Homo sapiens: one gene and its partner. The protein of the gene in region 1 interacts with the protein of each later gene in a pairwise test. Each region holds a gene or a part of one and is shown on either strand. Other genes may lie near its edges. The genes, in order: ZNF474 and GPATCH11.

Region 1 (3,500 bases):
TAGAGGGAATAAGACGTAATGTTCAGGAGCATAACAGGGCAACTATAGTTAAAAATAAGCTACTGTAAGTATTTCAAAATAATGAAAAGACTAGAATTGTGATGTTCCCAACACAAAATAATGATAAATGCTTGAGGAGGTAGATATCCCAATTACCCTCATTTGATTATTACATGTTGTATGCTTATATCAAAATATCATACCTATGCCATAAATATGTACAACTATTATGTATTCATAATAATTAAAAATTTAAAAAAGAAGATATCTGATTTCCAAGGGAAATTAAATTTTGAAAGTCATTAGCACTCAGAACATATGTGGTCAAGAAAAACAATGTATGAATAAACTTAGCTCAGGGAAGCCAAACTCTGTGATTCTCCTTCAGCTTTCTACCTAGTTAGGCAGTGCCCCCAGCACAAGTGACTAGCTGCTCGTATGGCTACCTTTGGTGTGCCTGTCTAGGTCCATTCTCTAGGGAGCAGCAGCACATCTATTCTGGTTGCTCACTACTTGATAATCTTTACCATGAGGTATAGTGCTTGGTCTAGTTCATGGTCCTTGGAGAGATTCTCATTTATCTTGGATTCAGTATAGTTATGCTTTTAAAGCTATAATATTATTATAATTCTAATTCCTTGAGATAGTATTATAAAAATGAACAAGAATTAAATGATCACATATGTGTAAGACTTGAGAAAATATTACAAAGCTGTCTGATAACACTTCTTTTCCAAAAGCCCCTTTATGTTTTTTATTCCTCATATAAATAATGAACTTCAGTTTTGTTTAAAAATTTAATATAACATCAAGCTAATCTCACTCAGCTAGGTCAACATTAAATTTATTTTGTTATGACCTACAATGTGCCTGGCACTGGGCGAGGTGCTGGTGATATAACTATGTAGAGAGCAAGTAAGTCTCTATTGTCTCGAAGTTCACATGCAATTTAAAGAGATAAATATTACACATGCAAACAAACAGACAAAAACATAGGTGCTGAGTGCTGTAAAGATGATAAACAGTGGCATCACTGAACATAACTATGATGGATGGTGATGGTGATATCAGTTCCATGAATGAACATGAATGGGCATGTGTATGTGCATGTGTATGGGTGCAGGTGGGTGTGTAAGTGTGTGTGTTTGGGACAGAGGGAAAGAAATTACTTGAAAAAGAGTAGTCAAGAGTTCAAGGCCAGCCTGGCCAACATGGGCAACAACAGTAGCCCATCTCTACTAAAAATACAAAAATTAGCCAGGCGTGGTGGCAGGTGCCTGCAATCTCAGCTACTTGGGAGGCTGAGGCAGGAGAATCGCTTGAACCTGGAGCCAGAGGTTGCAGTGAGCCGAGATTATGCCACTGCACTTCAGCCTGGGTGACAGAGTGAGACTCTGTCTCAAAAAAAAAAAAAAAAAAAAAAAAAAAAAAAGAGTAGTTAAGAAAGGCCTGAGTTGACAATATTTAAATAGAGACCTGAAGGATAAAATAAGAAAGCTAAGCAAAGAACTGGAGGAAGATTCTAGGCAATGGCAAGAGCATGTGCAAAGCCTCTTCCCAGTCCCTCCCCCAGTCTACCCCAAAGTAAGAGAGAGTTTGACTTGCCTGAGGAACTGAGAGATGAACATGGATGGAGCATGGTGCAGAAAAGGGAGAGCAAAAGGAGATAGGCAGAGACTGAGGGAGGTACCAGGTTACAGAGGGCATTCAAGGTCAAGAGGTTGGATTTTATTTTGAGAGTAGTGGGACAACCATGGAGCAGTCAGTCAGCAGAGGTTTAAGTTGTGATTGTAGCTTAAGGAGTTAAATGTGACTGCTCTGAAAAGGATAGATGAGGGTTGAGAGCGGAAGTGCCTCTTCACCTATGTGGTTGAAACAGCCCACAGATGCGAGGCGCACCCGTTCACCTGCCTGGCATTAGATTTATGAGTGCAGGCAAAACAGCCAAAAGGAATAACCAACCACTTCAATGCTAGATATGGAAATGCTTCTACATAAATTGATGTAATATCACAAGAGGTTATCCAATATCAAATGGGTAGAATGAAGACAGGAGTGAAAAATCATGGGAAAGGAGATATATTAAAATGCAAAGGCAGAAAATACTAAGATGAGAAGGGGAGCAGAAGGAAAATATAAGAAGATGATAGAATAGGATAAGATGTTTTTTTCAGCCAAATTATTAATGGGCAATCACATAGGAAACAAAAACATGCTAAATATTGTTTAGAGTGTCTGTTAGTGCCTTTTCCCTTTTCCCTCACTGTCTAATTCCTTACCTTGCATTTCACATGCAAACCCACAATAAGAGGGGGAATCTACTTGAAGAGCTGAGGCAAAGGCAAACATCCTCATGATCTTCTCAGCCTGGCCTCACCACCAATGAGACTTCTCCCAAGTTCAAAGATATGTTCAAAAGGTTATTTTAGTGAAATTATTGTGAAATGAACAAAGAACAAAACGAAGAGTAGTGAGGACTGGAAATAGAAGAAAAAGGCAATTGGGCAAAGACTCAAATCTCGAGTTTCAGTTAGACTCTCAGCCAACAATTGTCCTTATTAGTACCATATGACCTAGTTACAATCCAGCATATCATCACTAAATAAGTGTCAGATGGACTAGCATTGTGGCATGGATTAATTACTAAATGAAGATTATAACATTGATTATCAATACATCCCCTTGACCCGGAAGAAATATGGAGAGGAATGCATAAGGTCTGTGATGTATGTGTGTATGTGTGTGTGTGTATGTGTATGTGTATTCATGTGTCTGAACAATTGGAAGCAGAGTCTTCAGTGAGGTGATAATAAGTATAACTGATAAAATTCTATTTTCTTGACAATCAAGTATACATATCCTTTGAAAGAATGGAAAAATATATAATTATTTTGTGAAAGACTTTTTCCATTTTGGTTCATTTTAAAATCATAAATGTGTAATAAAAGTTAATATTTACATTCCTTGAATCAGTTCATGGCATTTCCACTCAAAAGTACTAAATGATTGTAAAACATTAAAATCAGATAAATCTTGGATTGCTTTATCTGTTCAGTTCCAAGTGAACCATCTTATATATGAAACATATGACATTTCAATCAACAAAAATTAAAACCACACTTTCCCCTTCAGTTAACCTGTTTCCAATGTAAAATACCATGTCAAACGGAGTTTAATTATTTGAACTATTGGGGCATTTATGTGTGTTAAGCAGTTTCTAAATAAAGTTTTCAACAGAGATTCCCAGAAGTAGCACAGGAATGCTGTTTTAGCTAAAATTATTTAAATTAACATTACCCATTCCTTGCCTATATGAAACAGGCTTCATTATCATTCCCTAAAAATGTAATGATCTTTCATGTAACCAAATTTATTTTATTGTCAATTTTATAACTGGAATTTTGCAGTCAACTAAAAAGGATCAAGATTTGTGACCTAAAAAATTGTCATTACTTCATGATATTTACAGGACAAACCCTAAATGTATGAATTTTCAAATA
Region 2 (4,043 bases), on another chromosome or scaffold:
AAAATTATTATACTCAAGTAAGCATACGAGTGTGTTTTCCTTTCTTGAATAATCTCCATTTCCTTTTTTTTTTTTTTTTGTGAGACAGGGTCTCGGTCTATCACCTAGGCTGGAGTGCAGTGGCGTGATCTTGGCTCACCGCAACCTCTGCCTCCCGGGCTCACGTGATCCTCCTACCTCAGCCTCCTGAGTAGCTAGGATTATTGGGTGCCCCACACCTGGCTAATTTTTGTATTTTTAGTAGAGACTAAAATACACTACCATGTTGGCCAGGCTGGTCTTAAACTCCTGACCTCAAGTGATCCACCAGTTTTGGTCTCCCAAAGTGTTTGGATTACAGGTGTGAGCCACCATGCCCGGCCTCCATTTTCTTTTGATTGTGTTTTTTTGTTGTTTATAAGTAGGAGAAAAAAGTACACATTAGAATGACTTGTAGAAGTTTTGCAGGAAATAAGGTATAAATTAAAATAATTTACATTTGTTGCTAATTCATCATCCAAACTGAAGCTGAGATGAGAGGACAAATGGAAGCTAAAGGGAAAAATTATATGTAAGTTTTGATTTGGGGTTAGTAAAGTAATCCTGCAATGCAGTACCTCTCAACCAGGGGTTATTTTTCCCCTCGGGGACATTTAGCAATGTCTGGAGAGGGTTTTGGTTGTCATAAGCAAAAGTGCAACTGGTATCTGGTGGGCAGGGGCCAGAGATGCTGCTAAACATCTTGCAATGCACAGGACAGCTCTCCACAACAACGGATTACCACAACTCAAAGTGCTAATGTTGCCAAGGCTGAGACACCCTATGAAGGAAATGGTGCAAAGCATACGCTTAAATCTTCACTCTTATATTCATCTTCATCCTGTTCTTTTTCTTCTTCATCTTCTTCAGTCTCCTCTTCAAGCCTCAACCAGTACCATGCTTCCCTGGGAACCTGAATATTCTGAAAATGCAGAAGTAGTCTCAATTAAACATACTAAACATAAGAGCATGACAAATATGTTCATGTCAACATGAATTCATTCTTTCAATACGTATTCACTGAGTGTGGCTTTAAGAGTAAAAACACTGGCCGGGCACGGTGGCTCACGCCTGCAATCCCAGCACTTTGGGAGGGAGAGGTGGGTGGATCACGAGGTCAAGAGATCAAGATCATCCTGACCAACATGGTGAAACCCCATCTCTACTAAAAATACAAAAATTAGCTGGGCGTGGTAGTGCATGCCTGTCGTCCCAGCTACTCAGGAGGCCGAGGCAGGAGAATTGCTTGAACCCAGGAGGTGGAGGTTGCAGTGAGCCAAAATCACGCCACTGTACTCTAGCCTGGTGACAGAGTGAGACTCCATCTCAAAAAAAAAGTGAAAACATTGTACCATGAACTATGGGGATGCAAAGTCCAATTCTTTAGAATTGTGCAGTTGTCTTTAAGTTCCTTCTGACAGTCTAGCAGGAAAGATAGGCTATGGGTACAAAATAATACATATATGCTACAAAATCATAAGTGCCATGAAATACATTCAAAGTAAAGTAATATGTAAGAACAGGAAAGTGAGAGATTGCTTCCAGTAATCTATATATAAGGGAAATTTTACAAAGCTTTTTGAGACTTCAAATGAAGTCATTTTATTTTCAGAGTACTTGAACCACTAAGATAAAAGCAAAGACAGAATTTATTTACTTATTTATTTTTTTTGTAGAGCTGGGGACTTGCTATGTTGTCCAGGCTGGTCACAAACTCCTGGACTCAAGCAATCCTGCAGCCTCGTCCTCTCAAAGTGCTGAGATTACAGACATGAGCCACCATGCCCAGCCAGAGACAGAATTTTTTAAAAACTATTCAAATTTGAACTAGATAGCATTCCACCTTGATTTTATTTTTGAGACAGGGTCTCACTCTGTCACCCAGGCTGGAGTGCAGTGGCATGAACATAGCTCAATGCAACCTCAACCTTCTGGGCTCAAGTGATTCTCCCACTTCAGCCTCCTGAGTAGATAGGACTACAGGTGTGTGCCACCACATGCAGCTAATTTTAAGATGTTTTGTAGAGATGGAGTCTTGAAATGTTATCCAGGCTGGTCTCGAACTCCTGGGCTGAAATAATCATCCTGCCTTTGCCTCCCAAAGTGCTAGGATTACAGGATTGAGCCATCATGCCTGGCCCACTCTGATTTTAATAGTTAGACATATATTAGATACTGAATAGGAACTGAAAATAGGCTATTCTTGTTAATCAAATATTATAAAGAACAGAATTTCTGCACATAATAGTCATAACTGATATTCAAATAAGCAGAGAACAATTAAATGTAAAATTTTATTTAACCCTTTTTGTTTTACTATAGTTAGTATAAAACTATAAAACTATAGTTACTATAAAACCCTGGGTTTTATAGTAACCCAGACAACTCAGGTTACTATAGTAAATAATAAGCCATTTTTATATCAATTGTCACAGATCAGAAGTGCACATTACATGAAAGCTTTAATGAGTAGATAAACCGGGCTTGGAGTTCTTAGTTTTATATATATATATAATATATATATTATATATATAAATACATAAAATATATATAATATATAAGACATATGTAAAAAATATATAAATATATATGATACATATAAATATATGTAATACATATATAAACATATAATACATATATAAATATATATAATACATATATAAAATATATATATATATAATAAATAAACGGGAAATCACAGGGGGTGCCAAAACACTTTACTAAACTGAAAGCTGGTAAAAGGCTTACTTTCTGGACATCCAGTTGTTGACAGGCTCGCTGGCTTCTTCTGAGATCTCCTTCTAGCTTCATTTCATCTTGCTTATTTTTAAGTCGCATTCTAATTGAAAGAAAAAATTGTAAACTAAAGGTCTACGTTATCTTTAACCATTTTATATGCCCAAGTACCAGAGAACATACCACAATAAAGAGGAAATAGAACCAAAACCAGCTCAAAAATAGTTTTACCGAAACTGTTCTGCAGCTTTTTCTTCAGCTTGGTTTTTCATGTGAATCTTTTTTCTGTAGCTTTCCAATTTTTCCTCTGCTTTCCGTTTTAATGATGCCTCATGACCAATGCCACTTTTCCCTATTCAAACAGAAAATTCTGATGAGAAACATCCTGACTTTGTGCTTCAAAACAAGACGATTTAACTATGTACAAATTAAATGCAATTCTCATTTGAGTACTATCACTCACAAATCATTTGAGTACACTAATAGTAGAAAACACTAGGGTTTTTTTTAAGCCCAAAACATAATCTGATTTTTACAAAGATTGTTAATCTCATCTTATAGTAATATTATAAACAATTTTTCAAATCAGAAAAACAGTATTAGCTGTTATAGTTTTATTTAAATATGAATAAAATATATCTTTTTCTCTTGAATTCATCCAAGTATTAAGCAAAACATTTGGTAGATAAATCTGTCTCAGAACACTTTTATTTTATTTTATTTTTATAGGGACAGGCTGGTATGTAGTGGCACAATCATGGCTCACTGTAACCTCGAACTTGTGGGCTCCAGGAATCGTCCCGCCTCAGCCTCCTGAATAGCAAGGACTACAGGTGCGTGCCACTACACCCGGTTAATTTTTTAAATTTTTTGCAGAGATGAGGTCTTGCTATGTTGCCCAGGCTGGTCTCAAATTCCTGGCTGCTTTTTTTTTTTTTTCCTTGAGATGGAATTTCACTCTTGTTGCCCAGGCTGGAGTGCAATGGCGCAATCTTAGCTCACTGCAATCTCTGCCTCCTGGGTTCAAGCGATTCTCCTGCCTCAGCCTCCCAAGTAGCTGGGATTACAGGCATGCACCACCATGCCCGGCTAATTCTGTATTTTTAGTAGAGATGGGGTTTCTCCATGTTGGTCAGGCTGGTCTTGAACTCCCAACCTCAGGTGATCTGCCTGCCTCGGCCACCCAAAGTGCTGGGATTACAGGTGTGAGCCACCACGCCCGGCCAACTCTTGGCTTTAAGCAATCCTTCTGCATCGGCCTCCCAGAGCAAAACAGTTTTAAGACATTT

What was found.
Region 2: the proteins of ZNF474 (region 1) and GPATCH11 interact in binary tests that used the Homo sapiens proteins (3 or more experiments, as listed by UniProt).

Annotation. Positions count from the first base shown.
Region 1 is NC_000005.10:122,136,046-122,139,545, forward strand, and holds part of ZNF474 (zinc finger protein 474), read left to right. Parts: intron 1-3,500.
Region 2 is NC_000002.12:37,090,979-37,095,021, reverse strand, and holds part of GPATCH11 (G patch domain-containing protein 11), read right to left. Parts: intron 3,107-4,043; coding exon 2,986-3,106; intron 2,882-2,985; coding exon of another isoform or gene 2,858-2,881; coding exon 2,767-2,857; intron 941-2,766; coding exon 827-940; intron 371-826; exon of another isoform or gene 262-370; intron 1-261.